Linked DNA regions of Homo sapiens: regions 2, 3 and 4 are each linked to region 1. Evidence: fine-mapped expression QTL. A gene starts in region 1. Each other region holds a variant in brackets. All regions are shown on one strand. Distances are between the middles of the regions.

The links. PIP is the estimated chance that this variant, and not a neighbour inherited with it, causes the effect. A credible set is the group of variants that fine-mapping cannot tell apart.
Region 2: its variant is the best candidate, but not a certain one, in a credible set for the expression of LMTK2 in whole blood (INTERVAL, PIP 0.54).
Region 3: its variant is the best candidate, but not a certain one, in a credible set for the expression of LMTK2 in fibroblasts (GTEx, PIP 0.51).
Region 4: its variant is the best candidate, but not a certain one, in a credible set for the expression of LMTK2 in whole blood (INTERVAL, PIP 0.78).

The regions. Positions count from the first base shown.
Region 1 is chr7:98,102,347-98,110,108 of GRCh38, reverse strand. LMTK2 (lemur tyrosine kinase 2) reads right to left here and starts at 3,247. Exons shown (of 14, transcript NM_014916.4): 1 at 2,829-3,247. The coding sequence starts at 2,931.
Region 2 is chr7:98,136,593-98,144,354 of GRCh38, reverse strand. It overlaps LMTK2 (lemur tyrosine kinase 2), which reads right to left. Exons shown (of 14, transcript NM_014916.4): 2 at 6,913-7,040; 3 at 2,814-2,958. Among named protein-coding and RNA genes, the nearest start is that of LMTK2, 34 kb to the right of the region's middle. The variant G/C (reference allele first, on the strand shown) is at 3,714.
Region 3 is chr7:98,060,800-98,068,561 of GRCh38, reverse strand. No RefSeq gene overlaps it. Among named protein-coding and RNA genes, the nearest start is that of LMTK2, 42 kb to the left of the region's middle. The variant G/T (reference allele first, on the strand shown) is at 4,212.
Region 4 is chr7:98,081,826-98,089,587 of GRCh38, reverse strand. No RefSeq gene overlaps it. Among named protein-coding and RNA genes, the nearest start is that of LMTK2, 21 kb to the left of the region's middle. The variant G/AG (reference allele first, on the strand shown) is at 4,574.

The sequences.
Region 1 (7,762 bases):
AGCAGAAAGAAGAACAAGGAGGCGAAAGACCCTATGAAATGGGTCTATCCTTATTTGAAAGTGTCTAGCTCTATCTTCACAAGGAGTGCAGGCTCCTAGATTACCAGAAGCTTTAGTTAGGTTTTTGGCGTGTAACTGCTCTTTTATCTACCATACATGGTCAAGCGGGATTCCTCTTTTTTAACCAGCGAGCTCACTAGTCAGGATTAGCTTAAAGGTTTTTTTTTAAACTTGGTCTAATATATCTTGGTCAAGAACCCACCTCAGCTAACGAGGATCAATAAACTCTTTTGGATGGAGAGACAAGCCCCTGAATATCTATGTCTGATTGTGCATCTTCCTTTCTTTTTTTTTTTTTTTTTTTTGAGACGGAGTCTCACTCTGTTGCCCAGGCTATGATGCAGTGGCACAATCTCGGCTCACTGTAAGCTCCGCTCCCTGGGTGCAAGCAATTTTCCTGCCTCAGCCTCCCAAATAGTTGGGATTACAGGCTCCCACCACCACGCACGGCTAATTTTTGTATATTTAGTAGAGAGGGAATTTCACCATGTTGGTCAGGCTGGTCTCGAACTCCTGACCTCAAGCAATCCACCCACCTGGGCCTCCCAAAGTGCTGGGATTACAGGTGTGATCCACTGCTCCCGGCCTGACTGTGCGTCTTTTCCACAGACTTTAACCCTAGGTACCCATTATTCATATGCAACACGTCAAAACATATACACCTATCCTACAAAGATCAGAATATGAAAGGAAAATTTGTAGCAAAAGTTGCTACAAATTACCAAATATTTCCTTATGCTATATGTATGTCAAGATTTGATATCTCTATTTACAGATTAACTTTTCTGATTGCTTTGTTCTACAACACCCCAACAAAATTCATTTTATAATTCATGACACCATAAAATTGTAAAAGAATGGAATAAAAACCGTGTAAGAAGTGTACAGGTGGCCAGGCGCGGTGGCTCACGCCTGTAATCCCAGCACTTTGGGAGGCTGAGGCGGGTGAATCACGAGGTCAGGAGTTCAAGACCGGCCTGGCCAAGATGATGAAACCCGTCTCTACTAAAAATACAAAAATTAGCCGGACATGGTGGCAGGGGCCTGTAGTCCCAGCTACACAGGAGGCTGAGGCAGAGAACTGCTTGAACTCGGAAGGGGGGGGTTGCAGTCAGCTGATATCGCACCGATGATGCACTCCAGCCTGGGTGACAGAGCAAGACTCCGTCTCAAAAAAAAAAAAAAAAAAAAAGTGTGCAGGCAGACATAGGTTCCTATAAAGAATCGATACTTCAAAATATATAAAAATCCAATTAAGTGTAAAGTCATCTGGAAATTTCTTGAATCCCCATCATATAAATACTCTTTACCTACTACACTATACTAGTGCTAACTTTCAATATCAATATCTTTAAATATCAACATCACCATCCTTCCACATAATCTTTCATTATTTCCCAGGCATTTCCTGTGACTCTTTCCGGGGTTGCCTATACACATCTGATAACATTTACTCTTCTTATCTATCGGATCAGAAAACAGAATTCACCTCACAAGTATTTGATCTAAGGCAGTAACAGAAATTTAGTGCTACATTATACGGTACAATGAGGACATTTAACGTTCAACTAAAGGGCACTCAATGACAAACCCTGATGTAGCTCTGGAAGCAATTACATGTAGCTTTCATCGTAGATTTGTTTGAAAAATATGTCTTTACTGGAGACAGTACATCCACATTCTGTACCCAATTAACATTATTCCAAAATAACTCTTGACCTCGAGAGTATTCCAAAACAGTTACAAGACTTAAAAAAAATCATACAACTAGGGGTATCTAAGACCTGGCTTTGGGGCTCTGCCTACAACGAAGCTGTGTCACCCTGGGTAGGTCATTTGACCCAACATGCCCAGTATCTCCTACTACGTAAAGAAGAAATTGGTCTAAATTTTCTTTAAGGTCTCTTCTAACTCTAACATTCTATGAATGTATGAAATTTCAATCTTTCCCCATTTCAAAGGTAATGGCGGCAGTCAATAACGCCAAGTTAGCCTAGATTTTTTTTTCCTTTTTAGAAAAATGACCCAACTTGGGATGTTTTCTTGGGTTGAAGTTTTATTTAGGAAAATAAACCCCAAATAAAAACGATGTTGAGAAAATGGGCGGGGGGGGAGAAAAGAAAATCATACACTGACGTTAGCTAAAATAGAAACTTCCATCACCCTTAAGCCAGTTTGTCAATAGTTATTCAACGCCTGCTACTCTAATCACTGGCTTCCTAAAATAGAAATATTTATAGTTGTTTCCTTCTCATCCCCGGAGATACATTCCGAATAAAAAGCACAGCGTCTAAAATCAATTTACAACTTCAGAATAAGTTGCAAGGAGCGAAAACAAACTCCGCACAGCTCGCCAAGTCATTTGCATTTAAGTATGATTAGGGCTAAGAAACGGTTCTTATGAGATGCGAAAAAAAAGCACAAGAGGCAGGTGACATCTGGAAAGGGAAGCTGAACTGCCAGGAAGCGATATAAGCTGAGGATCTTAAGGCAACAGGTCCAGGGCCGGCACCGCAGCCTATCCCGGGAGGGGTCGGTGGCTGCTACCTCGCCCGCCGCCCTCCCCAGCCCCAACGACGTCGCCTCGCTCCCGCCCCCCCAAATCCCACGCCCCTGCGGCAGAAATCTCCCTAATCACTCGCCTCCCTGGGCTTCCCGCCCCCGGCAGGCCCTCCGATTCCTCGGCGCCGAGGCCGGCCCGGCCCTGCCGCCCCCTCCCCTCCACGCCGAAGACCCCGCAGCCCCGTCCCCGCCGCGGGCCCGCTCACCTGCACCTGTTTGCGGAAGTGGCGCGGCCCCAGCACTGCCGGCGATCAGGAGGACCAGCAGCAGCAGCAGCAGCCTCCGCCGCAACGCCGGCGGCCCCGGCATCTCGCCCACGGCGCGGCTCCGGGGCCGGCCCTCGAGTCGCCTTCCGTCCGTCCGTCCGTTCGCCCGTCAGTCGATCCTGCCTCCCTCCGCTGCCTCAGTGGCACCCGCGCCGGTTGCTCCCGAGCACACGTTGCTTCTGCCAAACCTCGGTCCGGCTCCCGGTCCGCACCTGCCGCTCCAGTCGCAGAAACACCATCCTTCCCGCCCGCCTGCGCCGCCGCCGCCGCCTCTCAACAGCAGCAACGCCAGCAGCCCTGCGGAGCGGCGGGCCTGGGAAGCCGCGCTCCCGCCGCCATGATGGGCTGCGTCATGTGACGTAGCGCGGGGGCGGGATGTCGTGATGGACAGGGCGGCCAGCCACTCGTCAGTCCACACCGGCCCAGGAGGCCCCGCCCATCATCCTGAAGGAGTGAGCGGTGGCGGCCGGTGCGCCCCCTGCAGACGGAGGAGTGCGTGGGCAGCAGGTAACACCAACAATTATTTTAAATTGAAAAATACAGGAAAATGTAAAGAAGACCATGACAATCATCCTGATATTTTTTTCTCGGTGTTTTATAACATGCAAAAATAGGCCTGTCTTGTCTTCTGCCTTTTTTTTTTTTTTACTTGTCAGAGCTGTTTTAGGCTCTTCTCCTTAAGTTGACCTACACATCCTCTCAGCCATCAAACAGCTTTGGGCTTTTCACTTGAATTGATCAAGAGAATGCCTCTCTCGGCATCACCCACTGACTCACCTCCTGAGCTCAAGCTGTTGCCTCTTGTCCACCTGGCAGACACTCTTCCTTTCATCTGTCGAGACTCACCTGACATATGACTTCATCTATGACTCTCTAGGAGAAATGACTGTCATCTCCTTAGTGCCCCGCCCTGGCCCTGTGTGGACTGCTATCCTAGCTGCAGTATCCTATTGACCCGTGACTGTAAGCTCCCTGAGGACAGCAACTGTGTCTGATTCAGCTGGTGGGAAATCCCTGGTGCAGGACCTGGGTCGGAGCAGGTGTTCTCTAAAGCAATGGTGCATGGCCCTGGTCCCAGGTACCAGGGCAGAGCAGCTCCCAGGGGTGGCCTTCTCCCCACCAAGAGGTGAGGTGAGAACACAGTCCTGCAGAGAGGATAGAGAAAGCACTCTCCAGACACAAGTAATATAGTGGTCAGAGGCATGGGGGTTGGGAAAATGCTAAGCTTTTCTGGAGAGGCGCTATGGTTCAGTGTGTGCATGAGAGGAGCTGATTTCAATCTTATCAGATGAGACTTTGCCACCTGGCAACAGTGTAACCTCCCCAATTCTCCAAACTCCCCAAATGTCCATCCTAAATGCCAGCTGTCGATGATGTTAACACAGCACTGGACACACAGATGATGCCCAGGGAATATTTGTTGGATGATTGAGGCAAGCCAATAAATATCTAAGGAGACAAATACCTGGAACGAGAAACATTGAATTTAAAAGTCCATGGCTTGGCTGGGCACGGTGGCTCACACCTGTAATCTCAGCACTTTGGGAGGCCAAGGTGGGTGAATCACTTCAGACCAGGAGTTCAAGACCAGCCTGGCCAACATGGTCATACCCCATCTCTACTAAAAATACAAAAAGTATTAGCCAGACACGGTGACGCATGCCTGTAATCCCAGCTGCTTGGGAGGCTGAGGCAGGAAAATTGCTCGAACCCAGGAGGCGGAGGTTGCGGTGAGCTGAGATCACACCGCTGCACTCCAGCCTGGGCGACACAGCGAGACTCTGTCTTAAAAAAAAAAAAGTTCACGGCTTTCTGCTGATTATATGCAGAATTGGTAAGGAAGGCAAAGGTCTAGGAAAGAGACACAATCACCCTGTTGTACTTCTACTTCTTTTTTTTTTTTCTTTGAGACAGAGTCTGTCTCTGTCACCAGGCTAGAATGCAGTGGTGCGATCTCAGCTCACTGCAACCTCTGCCTCCTGGGTTCAAGCGATTCTCCTGCCTCAGCCTCCTGAGTAGCTGGGACTACAGGTGCCCGCCACCACACCTGGCTAATTTTTGTATTTTCAGTAGAGACAGGATTTCACCATGTTGGCCAGGATGGTCTCGATCTCTTGACCTCGTGATCTGCCCACTCCGGCCTCCCAAAGTGCTGGGGTTACAGGCATGAGCCACCGCGCCTAGCCTATACTTCTACTTCTATCAGGAAGCTTCTCACTTTGAGTTCAGAGAAGCCAGGGACACCCACACTGTGTACTGCAAGGAGGCTCGTGACTGCCTGCTGTAGTGCTGGCCTAAGGAAGGCCTTACCTGATAATCCTGGTAGTGGTTATTTACAACTAAAGTGCACTCCAACAGCACGTTGGACCACAATCCCAAAGTAGATTTTGCTATTATTTGAGCAAGCCCAAAAGTTAAAACAAACAAACAAATAAACAAACTTCTTTTCCTCTTTCACAGAACAGGGGTTACAGTGCACATCCCCCAGATGATGTCTAAAGGCAGCCTTTGCCCCACCACCCACCTCACCGTGTATGCCTTTACTCAATACTTGAAGACTTCCAGTTAGAGATGTTATTAAACAAACAAAAACCTGTTGGCTTTGTTTAGTTTCACCCAGAAGTCAGAAAACAGCCTTTAGCACAATTTGGAAATCAATACCTAAGATTAGAAGCAATATCTTTCAGTGTTTTACAGCCATTCTTTTTTTTTTTTCTTTTTTGAAACAGGGTCTCGCTCTGTCACCCAGGCTGGAGTACAGTGGTGTGATCTTGGCTCACTGCAACTTCTGCCTCCCATGCTCAAGTGATTCTCCTGCCTCTGCCTCCTGAGTAGCTGGGGTTACAGGCGCCCGCCACCACACCTGGCTAATTTTTGTATTTTTAGGAGAGACAGGGTTTCACCATGTTGGCCAGGTTGGTCTTGAACTTCTGACCTCAAGTGATCTGCCCACTTCGGCCTCTCAAAGTGTTGGGATTATAGGCATGAGCCACCACGCCCAGCCCTTTACAGCCATTCTTGCAAGTTTTCCTTCATGCCAAGCCTCTTTCAAGTTTTCCTTCATGCCAAGCTATCGCTTGGAAGACCCTCCTGCCAGTGTCTGTCCTGCCAGCAAGCTCTGGCTGAGGCCTGGATGCTGAAGGATGTGGAGTCAGCTTAGTATTGGATGAGCACTTCTGGAGCTCTGGCACCTAGCAGATACTCTAAAGGTTCACAGAGCTCAGCTGGATCAAATGGGGCACCCAGGAGGCCTGTTGGTGGGGTCCTGGAGCTGCTGGTGCCAACTCATGAAAGCCAATTGTTAACATGTTCAGGAATTATGCGCATTGGTTGTTCAACACAGCCATTGTTAAAATTTAAGTTATAGGCAGTGGCTCACGCCTGTAATCCCAGCACTTTGGAAGGCCTAGACAGGTGGATCACTTGAGGTCAGGAGTTCAAGGCCAGCCAGGCCAAGATGGCCTGGGCATGGTGGCTGGCACCTGTTATCCCGGCTTCTCATGAGGCAGAGGCAGGAGAATCACTTGAACCCAGGAGGCAGAGGTTGCAGTGAGCTGAGATTATGCCATTGCACTCCAGCCTGGGCAACAGAGTGAGACTCCATCTCAAAAATAAATAAATAAATTATATAAATGTATAATTAAACAAATTATTTTAAAAACAAAGGTCATGAGGGAAGCATTTGGATACGATTTGGGCTTGTGTTCCCACCCGGTCTCATGTGTGGAGATGTAATCCACAGTTTTGGAGGTGGGGCCTGGTAGGAGGTGATCGGATCATGGGAGAGGGTTCTCATGAATGGTTCAGCGCCATCCTCTTGGTGCTGTTCTTGTGATGGCGAGTGATCTTTGACGAGATCTAGTTGTTTAAAAAGTGTGTAGCACCTCCTCCCTCTCTCTCTCTACTGTTCCCACCGTGTGAGATGCCTCGCTCCTCCTTTGCGTACTGCCATCATAGTAAGTTTTCTGAAGCCTTTCAGAAGCCAAGCAGATTCTAGCATCATGCTTCCTGTACAACTTGCAGAACCATATGCCAATTAAACCTCTTTTCTTTATACATTACCCAATCTTAGGTATTCCTTATAGCAATGCAAGAATGGACTGATACTTGAAGAATGGAAGGCAAGAAGAGCACTAGCAAAATTGTCCACATAAACTTCTTCAGAACTCTAGGAATTTGCCAGAGGTTTGCAATATCATGAGTCAATTTGTTAAAGAAAAATGGCTGAGGCCAGGTGTGGTGGCTCACGCCCGTAATACGAACACTTTGGGAGGCTGAGGTAGGAGGATCACCTGAGCCTGGGAGTTTGAGAGCAGCCTGGGTAACATAGTGAGACCCCAATCTCTACTAAAAATAAATAATTAGCCAGGCACAGTGGCACATGCCTGTAGTCCCAGCACTTTGGCAGGCTGAGATGGGAGGATTGCTTCAGCCCAGAAATTTGAGGCTGCAGTGAACTGTGATTCCACCACTGCACTCCAGCCTGTGCTACATAGTGAAACCCTGTCTCTTAAAATAAAGAAAAGGAAAATGGCCAAATCTCATAAGAATAATGAGCTTCATGAAATTTTTACTTGCCCTATTTCCATTCTTCTCTCCCCACCTCTGTGATAGCCTTGAAAACCAGCAACTTCACCACCATGGGAACTGTGGAAATAAGCAGGCTAGCAGCTACCAGAGGGGGCAGAATAGGTTTGGAGCTCCCCCAAAACCTGTATCCCCAAAGAACTGTGACTATCTGACCTGTCTGGCAGCTCCTTAGAAAGGCACTATTTTCAGGGCTTTTCTTCATTTGATATGACTCAGAAATGCCTCAGTGAAAATAGTCCTATCCTGTTTGTTGAAAATAATCAGTGACAACTGTTTAACATTGC
Region 2 (7,762 bases), 34 kb before region 1:
TTCATGCCATTCTCCTGTCTCAGCCTCCCGACTAGCTGGGAATACAGGCGCCCGTCACCATGCCCAGCTAATTTTTTTTTGTATTTTTAGTAGAGACGGAGTTTCACCGTATTAGCCAGGATGGTCTCAATCTCCTGACGTCATGATCCACCTGCCTCGGCCTCCCGAAGTGCTGGGATTACAGGCATGAACCACCGCTCCCAGCCTAAACATATATATTTTTTGTAATGTTATGGTTTTTGAACCAAGTGAATATATTATCTATGCAAAAAATAAAATACATTTTAAAAATAGAAAAAAAGAAAAAAATGGTAGAACTTGTAGAATTGCTTGTATGTGGTATATCTTTTTCATGTACTATATCACAAATATCTTTCGTAGTCAAATACAGTTCACCTTGATCCTTTTATAGGAACACATAAATCGCCACTGTATTGATTGACTATAATTTAGCAAATTGCATATTGACAGACATTTAATCTGTTTCCATCTTACCCTGCCAAACAACGCTGCAATAAATTCCTTTGTACATGCATATTTGCACACTTGCCCAATTAGTTCCTAAAGATAAATTACTAAAAGTGGAACTGCTCGATCAAGAGTCAACATGTCTCATATTTTGATACATGTTGCCCGACTACCCCTCCAGAAAGAACATCTTCAGCAATTTATAGCTGCACTAATCCTAGTGGATGAGACTGCCTGCTGCTCTCCACATGCTCGCCAATCACTACCTGGTGTCATTTCTTTTCATCTTTACCTATCTGCTCTCAGCTTAAGTCAGCATTTCTTTAATTAATAACGAGGTTACTATGTTTATTGGCCATTTGAGATTCTCCTTTCATGTCCTCAGCTTATTTATTCTAGTAGCGTGTTACTTTTTATCCTGCATTTGTTTGTACTCTTGATATGTAACCGTTTTTAATACTGTTTGTAGTTCACAAATATTTTTTGCGACTCTGTCAATTTGTGTGTGGTGTCTTTTTCTATACAGAATATTTCATTTTTGTAAATCAGATTTGGCAGTATGTTCCTTTATGGATTCTGGATTTGGTGCATGCTTGGAAAGGCCTCTCGTATCCCAAGATGATAAAAATATTCTGAGGGTATTCTACTCAGAGAAATTTAAAATAATTTCTTCCTACGGAGAGGGATATTAGGGTACAGGGCTTCAGTAAAACAGAAAGGGGTGTGTATATAAACAAAATTACAATGGCTGCCCAGGTCACCATAATTTCTCTTCTGCCTGCATCTGACTGTGCTCCCATCCATCCCCAGTAGATCCTGAAGAGAAGCTGTCTGTCTGTCCCCACCTTCCTGACCAGTGATGGCTCTGCATCCTGTGACTTAGGTGAAGACAACCAGAATGTCCCTCCAAAGGGTTTTCTTTCTGGTCCAAGGAGAGAGAGAAAGAAGCTCCTTTCCTCTATGGTTATAAAACTACAAGGGAATGGGTGTGGAGCTGCTGGCAGCCAACCTCCCTACTGAGCAGAGAAGCTGCCTAAGAGATTCAGCAGATATGCAAAGAGAAGAGAAAATCAGAAATGAATTAAAATGCTGATGATGTTCCAGGCCCTGGTTCTAGCTGTCTCCAAGGTCAGCTGAACCCCTGTTCTTCCTACGGTCTGGGTCCATGTGTCAGAAAATTCTCGTTTCCACTTAGGCTGATCTAATTTGGAATTCAGCTACTTGAAATGAATCCACCGGGGATCGACTATGGGCCTGTAAAAGCTCTGAGAAGTCTCTCCAGGTTTTTCTTAAGTATAAAGGAAAGCAAATTATCAAACAAGCAACAATAAAATATTTCCATTTAGAGTAAGTATACTTAAGTTATCCCAAGAATATATTAGACCTCCTTTTAAACTTCATTATTTTGGTTGGAGTAGGGGTATTGTTATTTACAGCAATTAAACACTCCAGGTTGTTTTTTTTAATGCTGCAAAATCTATAAATTTAAATATATTCTTACTTTACAAATATTTAAATGAAATGCACCAACTATGTCACGTTCCATCTGGCTTTTTCTTATAGTCATGCCTGCCTGCAGTGGCATCAGTTCGGGGGTTTATTCTGCCCTAGGCAGAGCCCACAGCGTGTGTCACACCAGAAAAGGTAGTCCTAGCATCTACAGACTTACACAGCCTTCTTGCGGCAATCTCAGAAAACCCTACTTCTTGAACCTACTTCTTTGGTCAAAGCAAAAGCTTAAAATATTTTTTAAAAGGTATTATTTTAATCACAGAATAAGAATTTCTTAAGACCACAAAAAGTTCTAACTCTAAAAAGGGCTTAAATTTCAAACTCTAAAAAAAAAAACTATAGTCACATTCTATTTTTCTAGTCACATTCTATTTTTTCACAAGACATCAACTAACACAGAACCAAACCTCTGTCTGAAGAAGCTTAGAAAAGTCAATCTGATTAACATATCCAAACTTTCCTCTCCTACCCAAATGCAGGGCATCCCAGTGGAAGCCAGCAGAGTCCTACTCAGCAAGGTCAGCCGTGGCCAGAACTAGCAGAGAAACCACCTCCAGAACAGAGCCTGGGAGTTCTGGCCAGGTGTTCAATGTCAATGAATCAAGGAGATTCGTTTTATTCTCATACCAGACCCAGGGTCCAGAAAGCAGAAGACAAAGCTATTGCAGGAATACAATGGGCCTGACCACTAGAATTCAGCTTCACTGGGAGCAGAAGGAAGAGAAATAAACCAAAGAGGAGATGGGCAGTCCAATATTTATGATGGCTAGGCTCCCATTCTCAGATCTCAGAAACAATTCATGAAAACGTGGCATTAGGCTGTATGGTCTTACCTACAGAAGGCTGGAATTGCGAGGGAGCTGGGAGTGAAATATTTGGTACTGAAAGTGTGAAGACCTCTGCTGGGGACTGAACAGAGGGAGTGTCTTCTGCTGGTGGTGTGAAATCTATCTCATCATCAAAATTATCTTCAAATTCCTAAAATGAAAGAGAGCAAGCATTAAAAACCATTGGCTAACATTTAAAATAGGAACATATTTGCACAATGATTTGGAACTTGCTGCCACAATTATTTTTTTCCAGTTTGTACTTAATGTTAAGTAAAAAGCATATGTAATTTTGTTCTCTGACTCCAAACAGCAGAATACATAAGACAGGAAAATAAATTATACATATTTCATGTAAGTTTTTAAACTGTTAGTTTGAAGTTAAATGCAATGGAATTTACACAAAAATAGTTTTCTAGGCTTAAAAATTTACTCTCAAATGACTACAGTTTAAGCAATTCTTTTTTTTTTTTTTTTTGAGACAAGGTTTTGCTCTGTTGCCTGGCTGGAGCACAGTGACTGGAGCACAGTGGCATGATCATGGCTCACTGCAGCCTGGACCTCCAGGAACCAAGTGAGCCGCCTACCTCAGCCTCCCGAGTAGCTGGGACCACAGGCACGCATCACCACGCCCAGGTAATTTTTTGAATTTTTTTTTTTTTTGTAGAGGCAGAGTCTCCCTATGTTGCCCAGGCTGATCTCAAGCAATCCTCCTGTCTTAGGCTCCAAAAGTGTTAGGATTACAGATGTTAGCCACAGCGCCTGGCCAAGCAATTCTTTTAATATTATTACTTTTGTGACATGATTCTTTGCATACTGAATCAAAATAAATCATTTTATTTTAAAGTTGTATATGCATTTCTAATTGAAATGTGATTTCTATCAAAATAAATGTTGAAAGACTCA[G/C]AAAAGATATTTTTAAGTGAGTTCTATTTCTCTGAAAAGAGTAACAATGGAAACATTACTAAATTAGCTAAAAAAAATCACCAGGATCTGAACCACAAAGGTCACTAAAAAAACCATGTGACGCATAAGTGTAATTAACATATAAGCACGTCTGGCTTTCTAAAGATGACAACTTTACAACTGAGGATGCAGGCAGGCAAAGTGGCTCATGCCTGTAATCCCAGCACTTTGGGAAGCTGAGGCAGGTGGATCACTTGAGCCCGAGAGCTCTAGGCCAGCCTGGGCAACATGGCAAGACCCTGTTTCTACAAATAATGATTTAAAAAAATTAGTCAGGCATGGTGGCGCAGGACTACTGGAGTAGTCCTGGCTACTCAGGAGGCTGAGGGAGGACTGCTTGAGCCTGGGAGGTCAAGGCTGGGTGATAGAGCGAGACCATCTCAAAGACAGAAAGAAGAAAGAAAAGAAAGAAAAGAAAAGAAAAGAAAAGAAAAGAAAAGAAAGAAAGAAAGAAAGAAAGAAAGAAAGAAAGAAAGAAAGAAAGAAAGAAAGAAAGAAAGAAAGTTGTGGAAACCTTTTACGTGACGTTCGGTGGGAAGCTATCGCAATTCTTCCGTCACCATTCTGGTGAACTGGTATACCTTGATATCCATGTTAATTTACCATAGACACGGCCAATTATCAAGTCATTCATCAAATCATTTGTTCAGATAATTAACATGTATTAGCCCTCCAGGCACCATAACAGAAGCTGGGAACAGATCAGTGAACAAGACTGTTCTCCACTGAACAGTCTATGAACTTTTATTTTCATTTTCTCTACCACCTCTCCTAGCCCCCATCCAATACAAGAAAGAAACTAAAAGTTACAATGGTAGATTTCTCTAACACTTGTGTTTCCATATGCGTGTGAGAAGACATTATTCTCATGTATGTTCTCCAGTGCATTAAAGGACATTATTGCTATTTGTATTGATGGAGTTGGGAGCAAGAAAAATGAGGTACCGTAACTTCAATCTGGGAGGGGATTTTTGAACAGAGGAAATCCTTCAATTTTCTTTTGGACATTCCTAAATAGGGCTCTCTCTGTAAAATGATTTTGTCCATCACTCCTACCTTAAAATAATGCCATTCAAAATTTGGCAGCAGCATGATGTACCACTAGATATACCAACAGATGATTCTAAAGATTCAGACCAGGTAATGTAGTATAAAAATAAGAAAAATGGCCAGGCCCGGTGGCTCACGCCTGTAATCCTAGTACTTTGGGAGGCAGAGGCGGGAGGATCACTTGAGCCCAGTAGTTCAAGATCAGCCTGGGCAACATGGTGAAACCCTGTCTCTACAAAAAATACAAAACTTAGCAGGGAATGATGGCGTGTGCCTGCAGTAACCTTAGCTACTCGGGAGGCTAAGGTGGGAGGATTGCTTGAGCCTGGGAGGTTGAGGCTGTAGTGAAGTGTGATCCAGCCTGGGTGACAGAGAGAGACCCTGTCTGAAAAAAGAAAAGAAGAAAAATTAGATAAGCCTGGGTCACTTTTAAAGTTTTGCTGCTGGCTATCTGGATGAATGTCGGCAAGTCACCTGTGTTACCAGACTGTAGCTTCCTGGTCTGTAAAATGACTTCCACGGACCATCAGCTCTAAAACTGCACAGCTTTAAATCTAGAGAAAGCCAATAAATCACAGATGGAAATACTCTTTACACAGTCACACAGACTCTAGAGCTGGAGAGTCCTCTAAGACACTGCGGCCCCTGCGCCAGCATCTCCGGGGGAAGCTTGGTAACAACACAGATTCCTGGCTCTCAAATGAACTCCCGCATTCAATCCTGAGATTCAAAAAGCTTTGCATGATCTAAGGCAAGAATGAGGCATCATGAAATGTGAGATGGAGACTGGATTTCAGTATCAGCAACACTGATCAGGCTTTATCTTTGTCCTGAAATGGCCAGGTTTCTGTGTAAAGTCCCACAGCAAGACTAACAAGCAAGGGACACAAACTGTCCACCGACAACTGTGCCCCTACTACTAGTGCCGTCAGCAGGCGCCATAGCAGTGTGTGTAGGGGTTCTAAGGCCTAGGGACTGATGTTGTGAGTAAAACCCTACAGGTCTGGGGCAAAATATTCTAAAGGAACTGATCTCCATTAGTGTTTTCCAACCACCCTCCTGTGTTCTCAGCCCTCTGTGTGTATACGGCCAGTGCTGACCCAAGAAAACAGCACATCTGTGTGTCTCCTCAGCGCTACTAGAAGGCTTGGGGTAAAGACAGCACACAAAAACAGCCATGAGGTTCTAAAGACCAGGGCCCCATGTCCAGGGAAAACAAGGCTTTAGCCAGAAGACGACCTTTTTTTTCCCTCAATTTGAACCACTGGACCTCCAGGCTCCTGGGCCAGCCCTGCGCGGTCAACAGGGAGTGACATTAAGGACCATTTTCTCTGCACGCCACATTCCTTCCTTCTCCCCCCCATGTATTCCTTTATAACAAGTATTTACATAGGCCGAATGCACTCCAGCAGGCATGCAGTAAGTTCTAGAGGCCTTCCTGGCTGGTTCACTGGTCCATTCCACCGTCTGCTGCTATAACCAGATCTTCTCTATTACCCTCCCTGGCCAGGACTTTACAATCTGCAGCCTCCTCCTCCCTGTTAGGGAACTTGAGGTTTCAATGATCTTCCTCTTTCACAAAACACACTGGGGGATCCCTCTGCCTCAGTAATCTCAGTGACCACAAATTCACCAGTCTACAGAAGTTTCGGGGTGGAGGGGAACAATCATCTTGCTCTTCCTCATAGCCCTTACGGACAACAGTGAATTCAATCACCACGCTTCACTCCTCACTCAGCAAGAACCTCAACTCACCACAGGCAAGTGGTTATTGTCAATGACAGAGGCGGAGCAAACTACAGCTGATGCACCAAATCCAAACCTCCTATTTGTGTAAATAAAGTTTTATTGGCACAAAGCCATGACCATTTGGTAACAGTGTCTATCCTGGCAGAGTTGAGCTGCTGTTTTAGAGACTGTATGGCCCACAATATTTACTATTCACTAAGGTAGAAAATATTTACTATTTGGCCATTAGGGGAAGAAAAAAAATCTGCTGATCCTGTTCCCAAAGGACTGTGCTATCCAGTTATTCTATTGAAAAACATATTGGAAGACCATTTTAAATGTTCCTACCCTCTGTGCTCACCTTAAAGTCTATTTCTGGGTCCTTACAGCAGGATACACAGTTTGCAATTAACACTATTAATATTATTAAACTGCACACACACAGGATCACAAAAGATGAGGAAACTTCTGCAGCAGGTGGCGCCTCCCCTGGAAAGAGAGATAAATAATATTAAAAACATGTACATTCCAAAATCAACTTTAATTAGTGAATCAATATATTTTCCTCTACATACAAATGGGTGTAAGGGTTAATAAAATAATGCTCGAGAAAAAGCTGATGATCCATCCAGGATAAGAAGCTGCTGTTTCTTTGAAATAATTTAGATTTACAGAGGAGTTACAGAGACAATACAGAGAGTTCATATACAGCCTTCACCCAGCTTCCACTAATGCTAACATCGTACATTACCACAGTATGCTGATCAAAACTAGGACAGTAACACTGGTAACAAGGCTATGAAGTGAACTTCAGGCTTTATTCGGATTTTACTGTTTTCTCCACTTTAGTCCTTTTTTCTTTTCAGACTCAATCCAAACTACCAACGTTGCATTTAATCACCACATGCCCCTCAGCTCCTCCAGTCTCTGACAGCTTCTCGTCTTTCCTCGCATTTCATAACTCTTGACACTTTTGAAGAGTGCTGGTCAGTTATTTTGTGGAATGTCTCTCAATCTGGGCCACCCAATGTCTTCTCAGGATTAGACCAAGGTTGTGGCTACCTGGGAAGGAGTTAGAGAATTCCAGTGGGGTGAACTGTCCTGCTTGCACAGCAGGGCGCATGACCTATGCCTGGTGAGGTGACTTTGATCCCATGGGCCAGGTGGCTCCCACCAGGCGTCACCAACCCACTGCAGGCCTACCTTTCCCT
Region 3 (7,762 bases), 42 kb after region 1:
CTGTCTCCATCATTCTCTCCTCTAGGTAACCACTACTCTGCCTTTTGTCACCACAGGGAGGCCAAGGTGATAGGAGGATTGCTTAAGGCTAGGAGTTCGAGACCAGCCTGGGCAACATAGAGAGACCCCTTCTTTACTGAAAAAAAGAAAAAGGCCAGGCATGGTGGCTCATGTTTGTAATCTCAGTACTTTGGGAGTTCGAGGCAGGAGGATCTCTTGACCCCAGGAGTTTGAGATCAGCCTGGGCAACATGGTAAGATGTCATCTCTACAAAAAATAAAAATATTAGCTGGGCATGGTGGTGCACACCTGTGGTTCTCAGCTACTTGGGAGGCTGAGGTGGGAGGATGACTTGAGCCTGGGAGGTTGAGGCTGCAGTGAGCTGGTGATCACACCACTACATTCCAGCCTGGGTGACAGGGCGAGACCCTGTCCCAAAACAAAAATTTCAAAAAATTTTTAAAAAGCGAATGTTTGCAGATTCCTAGGCTAGGAGGTTAAAGGCTGGAAATGGAGAAGTGAAAATAGTCAGTTTTATCATATGTAAATCTCCTGTATGTAACAACAAACCATGTTCATAAATGCTTAAGTAAAATGCTTAAAGCATGGGGTTTGCATCATAAAACAAGATGGTTGTTAACGTACAGTTGCTTTGTATTCAATACTTATACCTTTTTTTTTTTTGAGACAGAGTTTTGCTCTTGTTGCCCAGGCTGGAGTGCAATGGCGCGATCTTGGCTCACTGCAACCTCTGCCTCCTGGGTTCAAGCGATTCTCCTGCCTCAGCCTCCCAAGTAGCTGGGATTACAGGCATGCGCCACCACATCCAGCTAATTTTTTGTAGTTTTAGTGGAGACAGGGTTTCTCTATGTTGGTCAGGCTGGTCTTGAACTCCCAACCTCAGGTGATCCGCCCGCCTTGGCCCCCCAAAGTGCTGGGATTACAGGCGTGAGCCACTGTGCCTGGCTGTATTCAATACTTTCTTTTCCATTGCCATCACTTTTCTCACTCTCCTTGCTTCATTTTGAAAAACAAAAATAAAATCCTAAGTTCCTGAACCAACTGAACAAGCCCCCCTTGGCGAGGGAGACCTCAGAGAGAGTTTACACATGGAGTTCCCAGCCATGATGAAACGGGGGGGTTAGACAAGCTCCCCATGTCCTCTCCCTTGCTAACTGCAATTAGACTTTCTTTCCTAAGGGTTAAACAGAAACCAGCGCTTTTGAAAGACTTGCCAGACTCCCCTCCCCGTCTGCAGTTTCAACACAGCAACTGCCCAGCATTCTTCCCTGATAAGAGATCGCTGAGGTCCCGTGTGGTGCCTCCTGCCTGTAAATCCCAGCATGTTGGGAAGCTGAGACAAGAGGATCACTTGAGCCCAGGAGTTCGAGAGCAGCCTGGGCAACATAGCAAGACCCCATCTCTACAAAAAATCCAAAATATTCACCAGGTGTGGTAGTGCACACCTGTGGTCTCAGCTACTTGGGAAGCTGAGGTGGGAGGATCACTTGAGCCTAGGAGTTGAGGCTGCTGTGAGCCGTGATTGGGCCACTGTACTCCAACCTGGGCAACAGAGTGAGACCCCCCGTCTCCAAAAAAAAAAAAAAAAAACAAAAAAGAAAGAGAGGCCAGGCATGGTGGCTCATGCCTGTAATCACAGCACTTTGGGAGGCTGAGGCAGGCAGATCACAAGGTCAGGAGATCGAGACCATCCTGGCTAACACGGTGAAACCCCATCTCTACTAAAAATACCAAAAATTAGCCGGGCGTGGTGGTGGGCGCCTGTAGTCCCAGCTACTCGGGAGGCTGAGGCAGGAGAATGGCATGAACCTGGGAGGCGGAGCTTGCAGTGAGCCGAGATTGCACCCACTGCACTCCAGCCTAGGCGACAGATTGGGACTCCATCTCAAAACAAAACAAAAGAAGAGACCACAGATCATGGAGTGGTTCTGACCAGTCTACAGATGCTGTACACTGAGCGCCTTCGTGTCCTCTGCTTCACCTTTTGATGTGTAGGGCTTCATTGTGACACATTTAAATGTTAAGTCTCTGCCCAAAGTGAACACAGGATGCATATAACATGCTGTTTGCTGATGAGGCATATGTATGTTCTCTCTTCATGAATATTCATAGCTCCTCCCATAACCTGTTCAATATGTATAGTCACCTGTTGAATATGTATAGTTGAATATTTATAGTTCCGTATAAATTCCTGTCTCCTTCTTTCCTCCCTCCACGTACCTGCTTCTGGCTTCTCCCTGAGGCTACGCTTCCCAGCCTGTGGGATGGCATCCTGTAGGCTGCAACCCTTTGTAAGAAATAAAGCTCTCCTTTCCAAATTTGTGAACCTCATAATTCTTCAGTTGACATTTTGTGTAATTTTTTTCATCATTTTCTCAATTTTGGGAGGGGGACTGATTGTATACAAGGCTAGGCAAAAAGAAGAACCACACGGAAAGCATTATGAAAAATGCTCTGTTGCTGAGAATGGCTCCCTTGGTTCTGTCCTCGCTCTACACCAACATCTTCCAGGTTACACATCCTTCCAAAGGGCAACAAGGCTCTAATGTGCTACCAAATGTACTTGGACCATCACTGGCACGCTTTTCTTAAAATGTTTTTAGACCGGGCAAGGTGGCTCATGCCTGTAATCCCAGTGCTTTGGAAGGCTGAGGTGGGAGGATTGCTTGAGCTCTGGAGTTCAAGATCAGCCTGGGCAACATAACAAGATCCTGTCTCTATAAGCATTTTTAAAAATTAGCCAGCTGTGGTGGTGCTTACCTGTAGTCCCAGCTACTCAGGAGGCTGAGGCAGGAGGATCACATGAGCCTAGGAGTTCCGGGGTGCAATGAGCCATAGCTTACCACACCACTGCACTCCAGCCTGGGTGACAGAGTGAGACCCTACCTCTAAAAATTAAAAAATTTAATTTAATTAAAATTTAATTCAAATTTAATTTAATTCAAATTTAATTCAAATTTAATTTAAATTTAATTAAATTAAAATTTAATTTAAATTTAATTAAATTAAAATTTAATTAAAAATTAAAAAAATAAAAAAATTAATAAAATATTTTTAATTTCAGGGATGCCGATATTAAATATAAATGTTATAAATAGCACTCAAAAATGCTTCATTGAGGCCAAGCACGGTGACTCATGCCTGTAATCCCAGCACTTTGGGAGGCCAAGGCGGGCGGATCACTTGAGGCCAGGAGTTTGAGACCAGCCTGGCTAACGTGATGAAACCCCCTCTCTACTAAAAATACAAAAAAGTTAGCCAGGCATGGTAGCAGGCACCTGTAATCCCAGCTACTCAGGAGGCTGAGGCAGGAGAATCACTTGAACCCGGGAGGCAGAGGTTGCAGTGAACCAAGATCTCGCCATTGCCCTCCAGCCTGGGCAACAGAGCAAGACTCTGTCTCAAAACAAAACAAAACAAAAAACAAGAGCTGGATTTTTCTCCAACATCTCATCGCAGAGCCTTTGCATTTGCTGTTGCCTCTGCCCGAACACCCTTCCCCGCATGCTGACATCTGCGTGCCTGGCTTCTTCATTTTATTTGGGTATTTACTCAAATGTCACCTGCTCGGTGAAGCCTTCTCTGACCACCCTCTACTTGTAGCCTTTTTCCCACACTCTATATTTACCTCTCCCCACCATTTCATTTTTTATTGCACTTCTTTTTTTTTTTTTTTTTTTTTTTTTGAGACAGTCTCCCTCTGTCACCCAGGCTGGAGTTCAGTGGCACAATCACGGCTCACTGCAACCTCCGCCTCCCAAGTTCAAGCAATTCTCCTGCCTCAGCCTCCCGAGTAGCTGGGATTACAGGCATGTACCACCACGCCCGGCTAATTTTTGTATTTTTAGTAGAGACAAGGTTTCACCATGTTAGCCAGACTGGTCTCGAACTCCTGACCTCAAATGATCCACCCTCCTTGGCCTCTCAAAGTGCTGGGATTACAGGGATGAGCCACCATGCCCAGCCTCTCTGTTGCACTTCTTAACCCCTGACTTTGATCATTCTTGGTTTTGGTCTGTCTCCCTTCATTAGAACATAAGTTCTGGAGGCATAGGGGATTTTTCCTATGTTGATTATCTTGAAACTCAAGAGCCTGGAACAGTGCCTGGCACATAGTAGGCACACAATAAATAATTTTCAACTGCCACTGGCCTTTTTTCTGAGATGGGGGGTCTTGTTCTATTGCCCAG[G/T]CTGGTATGCAGTGGCACAATCATGGCTCACTGCAGCCTCCAACTTCTGGGCTCAAGTGATCCTCCCACCTCAGCCTCCTGAGCAGCTGGGACAACAGACGTGAGCCACCACACCTGGCTATATATTTTTTTCAACTCAATTTTAAATGGCTACAGTGATTGGTTTAGAAACAGACATGTAATCTACCAGTCATGACGGCTCATGCCTGTAATCTCAGGACTTTGGGAGGCCAAGGCAGGAGGATTGCTTGAGCCCAGGAGTTTGAAACCAGCCTGGACAACATAGTGAGACCCTGTCTCTACAACAAAATTTTTTTAAAAAATTAGCTGAGTGTGGTGGTGCATGCCTGTAGACCCAGCTGCTCAGGAGGCTGAGGCAGGAGGATCGCTTGAGCCTAGGAGTTCGAGGCTGCACTGAGCTATGATTGCACCATTGCATTCCAGCCTGGGTGACAGAGCAAGACCCATCTCTAAAAAAAAAAACAAAACAAAAAACGAAAACAATGTATTTTGTTGTTGTTGTTGTTGTTGTTGTTGTTGTTTTTAAGATGAAATCTCGCTCTGTCACCCAGGCTGGAGTGCAGTGGTGTAATCTCGGCTCACTAAAACCTCTGCCTCGTGGGTTCAAGCGATTCTCCTGCCTCAGCCTCCTGAGTAGCTGGGACTACAGGTGCACACCACCATGCCCAGCTGATATTTGTATTTTTAGTAGAGATGGGGTTTCATCCTGTTGGCTAGGATGGTCTTGATCTCTTGACCTCGTGATCCACCCCCCTCGGCCTCCCAAAGTGCTGGGATTACAGGCGTGAGCCACTGCGCCCAGCCCAAAAACGATGTTTTTAAAGAAAAGAAACAGATATGTAATCCACTTTGAGCTAGAGAGACAAAATGAGGCTTTGACATGGGAGAAAGGGGTCCTTTCTCTTGCCCTTCACTTGCCCTGGAAGCTTGCAGGCTAGAACTGTCACCACTGTCACATATCATAAAGGGAAAGCCTGCTTGAGAGTAGCCAGCAGAGGAAAGCCAGAGAGATAAAGCGAGGTCAGGGGTTGGTGACATCATTTGGCCTCTGTATGCAGCCATACCTGAAATAAACATCCAGTGGTGTGCTGGTAAATGTTTAACAATCAGCTCTGGGGTGAGGGGTAAGAGAGCCCTGATTCATAGCATCTGCCAATTTCCATAGTGTAAATATTCTCACCAGGCTGATTGAACTCAGGCTTGGGAGAGATTGCACACAGTCAGTAAGCTGCTCCATCATATCACTGCCCTGACTTCGAGTTCAGTGAATAACCCAAGATATGCCCTTCTTGCTTAAGTCAGCTTGTGTTCGGCTTTCGGTCACCCAAAGATCCCTGATACAGGTGCTGATAAAATAACAAGCCAAGGCTGGGCTTAGTGGCTCACGTCTGTAATCCCAGCACTTTGGGAGGCTGAGGCAGGCAGGTCACTTGAATTGAGGAGTACAAGACTAATTTGGCCAACATGGTGAAACCCTGTCTCTACTAAATACAGAAAAATTAGCCGGGGGTGGTGGCAGACGCCTGTAATCCCAGCTATTCAGGAGGCTGAGGAAGGAGAATCGCTTGAACCCTGGAGGCAGAGGTTGTAGTGAGCTGAGATCACACCACTGCACTCCAGCCTGGGTGACAGAGTGAGACTCTGTCTCCAAAAAATATATAAATAAATAAATAACAAATAAATAACAGCACAAACAAATGTGAAATTGCCCTTGTGACAGGCACAAAGAAGAAAGGCCCGTGAGATAGCTTGCTTGGCAGTGCTTACAAAGCCTTATGGAGGGAGGCATAGGAGGGAGGACCAGCCTGGGCAACAAAGTGAGACCCCGTCTCCATAAAAAATTAAAAAAAAAAAATAGCCAGGCATGATGGTGTGCACCTGTAGTTCCAGCTACTTGGGAGGCTGAGGCAGGAGGATTGCTTGAGCTCAGAAGGCCAAGGCTGCAACGAGCTATGATTGAGCCACTGCACTCCAGAGCGAGACCCTGTCTCAAAAAAATTGACAATGAGATATCACTTCATACCTGTCCGAATGGCTATTTGAAAAAAGATGAAAGATTAAGTGTTGGTGAGGATGTGGAGAAAAGGGACATTCGCACACTGTTGGTGGGAATGTAAATCAGTACAGCCATCATGGGAACCACTGTGGAAAACAGTATGGAGATTCCTCAAAAAATTTAAAAATTTAGCATATGACCTAGCATATGATCTAGCAATTCCACTACTGGGCATATAGCCAAAAGAAGTAGAATCAGGCTGGGGCGTGGTGGCTCACGCCTGTAATCCTAGCACTTTGGGAGACCTGAGGTCAGCAGTTCAAGACCAGCCTGGCCAACATGGTCAAACGCTGTCTCTACTAAAAATATAAAAGTTAGCCAGGTGTGGTGGCACGTGCCTGTAATCCCAGCTACGCAGGAGGCTGAGGCAGGAGAACTGCTTGAACCCAGGAGACAGAAGTTGTGGTGAGCTGAGATCGTGCCACTGCACTGTAGCCTGGATGACAGAGTGAGACTCTGTCTCAAAAAAAAAAAAAGTAGAATCAGTACATCAAAGAGATATCTGCACACTCATGTTAATGACGTCATTATCTTTTAAATTTTTTTTTCCTTTTTTTTTTTTTGAGACGGAGACTCGCTCTGTCACACAGGCTGGAGTTCAGTGGCGCAATCTCAGCTCACTGCAACCTCTGCCTCCCGGGTTCAAGCAATTCTCCTGCCTCAGCCTCTCGAGTAGCTGGGACTACAGGCGCCCGCCACCATGCCTGGCTAATTTTTTGTATTTTTAGTAGAGAGGGGGTTTCACCATGTTAGCCAGGATGGTCTCGATCTCCTGACGTCATGATCCGCCCGCCTCGGCCTCCCAAAGTGCTGGGATTACAGGCATGAGCCACCACGCCAGGCCAAATTTTTCCTTTTTTAAGTCTTTTGCACTCCTGATTGACAGCATTATTCACAATCGCCAAGATGTGAAATCAACCTAAGTGTCCATCACTGGATGAATGGATAAAGGAAACGTGGAATACTATTCAGCCACAAAAGGAGGAAATCCTATCATTTGCAACAACATGGGTGAACCTGGAGGAAATTATGTTAACTGAAATAAGCCAGGCACAGAAAGACAAATACTGTGTGATCTCACTTACATGGGGCATCTGAAAAAGTCCATTTCAGAGAAGTACAGAGTAGAATGGCCTGTTATTCCATCGTCTGCTCTGTGATATGGCAGAGCCCAGGTTACCAGGGGGCTTGGGGTAGTGATAGGGGAGGAAGTTTGGGAGATGTTGGTCAAAGTTTACAAAATTTCAGTTAGATAAGAGAAATAAGCTCAAGAGATTGGTTGTACAACATGGTGACCAATATATTGGCTGGGCAAGGTAGCTCATGCCTGTAATCCCAGTGCTGTGAGAGGCTGAGGCCAGAGGATTGCTTGAGCCCGGGAGTTCAAGACCAGCCAGGGCAAAATAACGAGACCCCATCTCTACAAAAAGTTTAAAAATCAGCCAGGCGTGGTGGTGCGCACCTGTAGTCTCAG
Region 4 (7,762 bases), 21 kb after region 1:
GCCACAAAAAAAATGCCGTAGACTGGGCGGCTTACACAACAGAAACTTCTTGTCTCACAGCTCTGGAGGCTGGAAGTCCAAGATCAAGGTGTTGACCAGGTTGGTTTCTCCTGGGGCCTTTCTCCTTGGCTTGTAGATGGCTGCGTTCTCTCTGACATGGTCTTTCCTCCGGCCACATGCATACCTGGTGTCTTTTCCTGTCTTCTTTTTTCTATTATTTATTTATTTATTTTATTTAATTAATTAATTTATTTATTTTTGAGATGGAATCTCCCTCTGTCACCCAGGCTGAAGTGCAGTGGCACAATCTCGACTCACTGCAAGCTCCGCCTCCCGGGTTCACGCCATTCTCCTGCCTCAGCCTCCCGAGTAGCTGGGACTACAGGTGCCTGCCACCACACCTGGCTAATTTTTTGTATTTTTAGTAGAGACGAGGTTTCACTGTTAGCCAGAATGGTCTCGATCTCCTGACCTCATGATCCTCCCGCTTCAGCCTCCCAAAGTGCTGGGATTACAGGCATAAGCCACAGCACCCCGCCTATTTATTTATTTTTTTTGAGACAGGGTCTTGCTCTGTCGCCTAGCTTGGAGTACGCAATGGCATGACCATAGCTCACTGCAGCCTCGACCTCCCCAGGCTCAAGTAATCCTTCCACCTCAGCCTCCCAGGTAGCTGGTATTACAGCCATGCACCACCACGTCTGGCTGAGTTTTTTTTACATTTTTTTGTAGAGATGGGTTTTTGCTGTGTTGCCCAGGCTGGTCTCCAACTCCTGGGCTCAAGTGATCCTCCCACCTCAGCCTCCCAAAGTGCTGGGATTACAGGAATGAGCCACCGCACCCAGCCAAGAGCCACTTGTTAACCCCTAGCCGGCACATCAGTGGCCTCGCCATAGGACACCCTCCTGCGGGTCTTTACGATCACCTTTGCTTGACTTGAATCCCTGTCATGGTTGCGTGACTTTAATTCAGCATTAGGCAAATAAGGAGACCAAGTAGGTTAAAAGTCATTTGACTCTCCCTAGTTCTCTGCCAATCAAAGGCTGTGTGCCTCATTCTGGATGATAGCCGACTTTATCTGCATAATGATGTGTGGTATATCATTAATGCAAATGATACATCAATTACCAAACTGGGCAATGATGAGATATCATGATGGACAATTGGCTGTCTTTCCAAATGCCTTTGTGCAAAGTCCTTACCTGTTGTTGCCTCTAAACCTGTGTAACTCAGGGACAGCTCACCAGCTGCCAACAGAGCCTTGAGCCACCACCCATTTTTGGAGGGGGTGCGGAAACCACCCAATATGGTAAAAACGTGCTAACACATTTAAGTCTAACAAATTAACACTTTTAATGTACATAATTTATACAGCTATATAATGATGCTATGCACAAAATAATTACAGCAGGATTGATAAAAAGTACACAGCAGATAGTGAGATTCGGGAATGAAATACCATTTTAAAATTGTATTATGAACATTTTTTTTCCAAGCTCATTAGTATTCATGCCTTCCTTTCGAGGTAAGTTTTATTCGACAATGACTTGCAGATCACTTTTGATGTGTCAGACACTGCTGTAAGCACTTTATAAGTAATAACTCTTTAAGCTTTATCTAATTTTAGAATATTTTTATCACCCACAAAAGAAACTCTACCCGTTAGTTGTCATTCCCCATCCATTCCCCCTGGTAACCACTAATCTACTTCCTGCTTCTATGGATTTGCCTGTTCTGGGCTTTTTTGTTTTTATTTTTGGTAGAGACAGGGTCGTGCTATGTTGCCCAGGCTGGTCTTGAACTCCTGGCCTCAAGTGATCCTCCCTCCTTGGTCTCCCACAATGCTGGGATTACAGGCAGGAGCCACTGCATTCAGCTGATTCTTGACATTTTATATAAATGAAATCATACAATAGGTTGCTTTTGGTGATTGGCTTAATCTATCCTTATTCCCATTTTGTGGATGAGGAGACAGAAACAGAGAAGATAAGGACCTTGGCCAAGGTCACATAGCTAGTAAGTGACAGAAGCAGGGTTCACACTCAGGTAGCCTGGCTCCGGCATCCTTGCTAAGTATCAGAGTCAAAACCGAATAACGTCAAAAGTGTACATTGAGGCCCGTCTCATGCCTCGGTGCCTCATGCCTGTAATCCCAGCACTTTGGGAGGCTGAGGTGGGAAGATCACTTGAGACCAAGAGTTCAAGACTGCCCTGGGCAACATAGCAAGGCCCCATCTCTACAGAAAAAAAAAAAAAAAAAAAAAATTAGCCGGCATGGCTGCGCACACCTGTAGTCCCAGCTACTCAGGAGGCTGAGGCAGGAGGATTGTGATCACTTGAGCCTAAGAGATCAAGGCTGTAGTGAGCCATGATTGAACCACTGCACTCCAGCCTAGGCAACAGAGCAAGATCCTGTCTCAACAACAACAAAGTATACGTTAAAAGCTTTTTGCGAAGATGAGGTGTGGACCAAATTGCTCCTGGATACCCCTCAGGTGAGAGACCCTGTTAAGGTTTGCTTTCTGGTGAGATCGGGGCTGGGGAGTAGGGTGAAGAGCAGAGGTGGAGAACAAGCTCTACCCTGAAGTTAATAGTTGCTGAGTAAACCTTTGTCCTTAGAGAAGATAGACTCAATACAATTACATGTATTTTAAAACAGTAATATTAAAAATTAGCTGGGCATGGTGGCACATGCCTGTGGTCCCAGCTACTCAGGAGGCTGAGGTGGGAGGATCCCTTGAGCCCCAGTGGTAGAGGCTGCAGTGAGCCACGATCACACCACTGCACTCCAGCCTGGGTGACACAGCAAGACCCTATCTTAAAAACAAAAAGAAAAAATTTAAAAAAGAAAAGAATTGTAAGTTTCTGGGGACCACGGGCTTCTCTTGCGCAGGGCACATGTTCTGCTCACATCTGCTCCTTACCAATTCTTTGACAATTATTTCAACACACACAGGAAGTGCCCGTGATGTGTCAGGTTATGTTCCAGGGAGGCACCAGGGTAAACAAGAAGATGACTTGTTAGACTTCTAGGACAAGGAGAGCCCAGGCCGCTGTGGAAAACTCTACCTGCCTCAGCCACTCTGCTGGCCACACGACTTTTGCCCCAAGCCCATAAAACCGAGGGAGTCACCTGCTGCGTCAGTTTCTACCAGGCCAGCTGGAACAGGCTGGGCGAGTTGGTGCCAGACTGGCACATGGGCAGGTAGGGCAGGGCCCGTTGTCTTCCCAGGGATTAATCAGCTCATGCAGCGTCATCCTCTGTCCCTTCCTTGGCATTGGACCAGAACGGGGACTGGAGCCTTCCAGCAAAGGGAGTCCTTGGGGAGCTCCTCCAGCAAGACCCGCCTGGGACTCTCCACCACCCCATGCAATGCCACCCTGTCTCATCCACGTATCTCAGTGAGGGGCAGCGGGAAAGAGGAATAGGGGGAGCTTTTTCTCTGTCTGTCTGATTGTAAGCCCCTACTTCAAGATACTCTAAGGAGTCGCTTCTACCTTCCCCAAATCGCTGGGGAGCAAACGCTCCATGTGACCCTATAAGGTGAGAAGTGAGGAAGTGACTCCCCTGTAACCCAGCAGTCCAGAATCCCGGGTCCAAGGTCACCCAAATCAACCATCTCATCACTGTTTGCAGTTGCTCTCTGGGTCTGCCTTTGGCTTCTTTTTGGGTTCAGAGCCCAGCAGGAAGCCAGGCCTCACCAGCAGGCCCCCACTCCCACTGCTGGGGGGCCTAGGCTGGGAGGCCCCAGGGAACTTCCTGCACCTCCCTCTGCCACACCTGCTTGTACCTGAAATTGTTTATTAGGGCGGTTCCAACAGCCACCAACAGGCTTGGCCGGAATTTGTGGTTCTTTCTGTGTAACACTCAATGGCTTTATTATTTAATAGCAGAAGGAGTTGTGGCTACTTATTTAATTGCCAAACTTTGTTAGAAATGGGGCTTTTCGCTGGGCATGGTGGCTCACGCCTGTAATCCCAGCACTTTGGGAGGCCAAGGTGGGCAGATCACGAGGTCAGGGGATCAAGACCATCCTGGCTAACACAGTGAAACATTGCCTCTACTAAAAATACAAACAATTAGCTGGGCATGGTGGTACATGCCTGTAATCCCAGCTACTCGGGAGGCTGAGGCAGGAGAATCGCTTCAACCCGGGAGGCGGAGTTTGCAGTGAGCTGAGATCGCGCCACTGCACTCCAGCCTGGACAACAGAGCGAGACTCCGTCTCAAAAACAAACAAACAAACAAAACAAACAAACAGAAATGGGGCTTTTCGCTGGGTGCGGTGGCTCATGCCTGTAATCCCAGCACTTTGGGAGGCCAAGGCAGGTGGATCACCCGAGGTCAGGAGTTCAAGACCAGCCTGTCCAACATGGTGAAACCTTGTCTCTACCAAAAATACAAAAATTAGCCGGCTGTGGTGGCGGGCATCTGTAATCCTAGCTACTTGGGAGGCTGAGGCAGGAGAATCACTTGAACCCGAGAGGTGGAGGTTGCAGTGAGCTGAGATCGCGCCACTGCACTCCAGCCTGGGTGACAGAATGAGACTCCTTCTCAAAAAAAAAAAAAAAA[G/AG]AAAGAAATTGGGCTTTTCACTGCCCCTTGTACACCCAGGTTGTAATCACAACCCACAACTCATCTGCTAAGAGGGCAAGCGTGTTTGCCCTTCTCTGATTCCCCATGAATAAGCCATAAACAATTGCAGACTTGGTTCAGGATGCCTGGACAGCTGTGTGTCCCAGGTGGCTCGCAGGCATCTCCTGTGAGGTATGACATCGCTCCCCTGAATAAGTCCTCTGAGGGTGGAGCTGTGCCCATTTTACCCATGCAGGAATCAGAGTGCCTCTGTTTTCCTGTGGGTGATGCCAAGAAGACTAGGGCAGTATTTGATCATCAGCAGGAAGGATGGGCTTTTGAGGAAGCCAGCCTTCTGCTACTGACTTCATTTGGGCCTTGAGGTTATTAGTTTCTCTCTCTGCATCTATTTCCTCTTGGGGGAAATTGACCAACCCCATCTGCTCACCTAGTAACCAAGTACCCCTATTTTTCTAAGAAAAAGAGAATGAGTAATTATTTATTATTTTTTCCTCTTTTCTGTTTCCCCTGTTCCTCATTTCCTACTTAGCCCTTTAGAAATGCAATCATACCTTGACCGGGCACGATGGCTCACACCTGTAATCTCAGCACTTTGGGAGGCCGAGACAGGTGGATCACTTGAGGCCAGGAGTTTGAGGCCAGCCTTGCCAACATGGCAAGACCCCATCTCTACTAAAAATACAAAAGTTAGCCAGGCGTGGTGGCACATGCCTGTAATCCCAGCTACTGGGGAGGCTGAAGCACCAGAATGGCTTGAACCCAGGAGGCAAAGGTTGCAGTGAGCCAAGATCGCACCACTGCACTCCAGCCTAGGAGACAGAGCAAGACCTTATCCCTCCCCTGCCACACACAAAAAGGAATGACATGATAACCTTTTACCTCCCCTTCACCAGACACTCCCTGCAGGGCAAGCTTATCTAACTATGTGCTTAGAAACTCCAGCGTGGAACTCACTCCCATTAGATTGCCTTGAGAGACAACGGTCTATTTACAACCCAAAGTATGCCCACTATGAAACTCTCTCCCCACTGGATAGTTTCAGCCACTCTGAAGACTGAAACTCTCTCCCACCTGGAGAGTTTACAACCTAGTTCTGCTCATGAAGGTGCTAGCTTGACTGCCCAGTAAATAAGGCACCAAACAAATTTGGGCAGACCCCCACCTGCTCACTTTCTCCCCTGCATGCCATTCATGCCAGACCCCCGCTTTAAAAGTGCACACTTTCTGCTCCAAAAGCGAAGTGGTACCCTTAAGCCAGGAAGCCTGCACTTCTTCCCACAAACTAGCTTTAAAATAAAAAGCCACCAGACCTCGCGCTTGTTAATGGAATTTTGCAAGTGGCGAGTGACTGAACCTGTGATTCGGTTACAACCTCTCTTCTGGAAGGGCTGAGGCTCCGTCCAGCTCAGGCAGATGGATGGAGACCCAGGGAAAGGACAGATCAGAGGGGGCTTCGGCACAGAGGCCAATACCAGAAGATAAAACAACTCAGCTATCTCTTAGCTGGAAAATGGGGACTTCTTTGCCCCTAGGAGGTATCAGGTGACAAAAAATATGTGGGACATCTCTGGGCAGCCCTGGAAACAGCCTCTGTTCTCCTCTGCTGGTGGCATTTATGTGGGTCTTGCTTGACGACCCCCCGATTCCTTGGAGAACAACCATTTGTGATTTTTCTTCTTACCGAGGTGGCTAAGAAATGGAAAATTTGTGAGCTAATAATTCTCACAGAGAAAAATGATTGCAAACTCTTTCACGCTACAAAAAAAAAAAAAAAAAGTGGGGGGGATTTCAAAGAAAAGAATGGGACCAGGTGTGGAGGCTCACATCCATAATCCCAGCACTTTGGGAGGCTGAGGTAGGAGGATCACTTGAGCCCAGAAGTTTGAGACTGACCTGGACAATATAGAAAGACCTATCTCTACAAAAAATTTAAAAATTAACCAGTCATGGTGGTGTGCACCTGTAGTCCCAGCTACTCGGGAGGCTGAGATGGGAGGATTGCTTGAGCCCAGGAGGTTGAGGCTGCAGTGAACCCTGATCATACCACCGCACTCCAGCCTGGGTGACAGAGTGAGACTGTCTCAAAAAAAAAAAAAAAAAAAAAAAAGAGAAAAGAAAATAAAAAGAAAAAAGGGGGGAGGCCTCAGGCTTTTTTTTTTTGTTTGCTATTTTATTATTTTTTATTATACATATTTAAGGTGTACAACATGACGTTTTGATATACATATAATCAGTCAAATGGTTACTATATCCAAGTAAATGAACGTATTCATCATTTTACATAGTTACCCATTTGTGTGTTTGGCAAGAGCAACCTAAAATCTATTCTTTTAGCAAAAATCCCAAATACAATATGATATTGTGAACTACAGTTCTTATGGTGTACATTTGATCTCTGTCTGGTGGGAGAACGGGTAGTGAATGGTGACTCTCTGGAGAGGCTGTCCATGGGAGCCAGAGACCTGGCCAGAGAGCTGGGGTCCGGCAGTGTCAGCTGCTATGTCCCCAGAAAGGCCTGATTGTGCAGTACAGGCCCTGAGCACAGAAACTCCAATGCAGGCCGGGCATGGTGGCCCACGCCTGTAATCCCAGCACTTTGGGAGGCTGAGGTGGGCGGATCACGGGGTCAGGAGATCGAGACCATCCTGGCTAACACGGTGAAACCCCATCTCTACTAAAAATACAAAAAATTAGCCGGGCGTGGTGGCGGGCGCCTGTAGTCCCAGCTATTCGGGAGGCTGAGGCAGGAGAATGGCGTGAACCCGGGAGGCGGAGGTTGCAGTGAGCCAAGACCGTGCCACTGCACTCCAGCCTGGGTGACACAGTGAGACTCTGTCTCGAAAAAAAAAAAAAAAAGAAACTCCAATGCAGCCATGAGGTCAAGACCATGTGAAATGAGCTGGGCGTGGTAGCTCACGCCTATAATCCTAACACTTTGGGAGGCCGACATGTGCAGATCACTTGAGGTCAGGGGTTTGAGACCAGCCTGGCCAACTTAGTGAAACCCCATCTCTGCTAAAAATACAAAAATTAGCCAGGCATGGTGGCGCGTGCCTGTAATCCCAGCTACTCTGGAGGCTGAGGCAGGAGAATCACTTGAACCCAGGAGGCAGAGGTTGCAGTGAGCTGAGATTGTGCCAAAACACCCCAGCCTGGGTGACGGAGAGA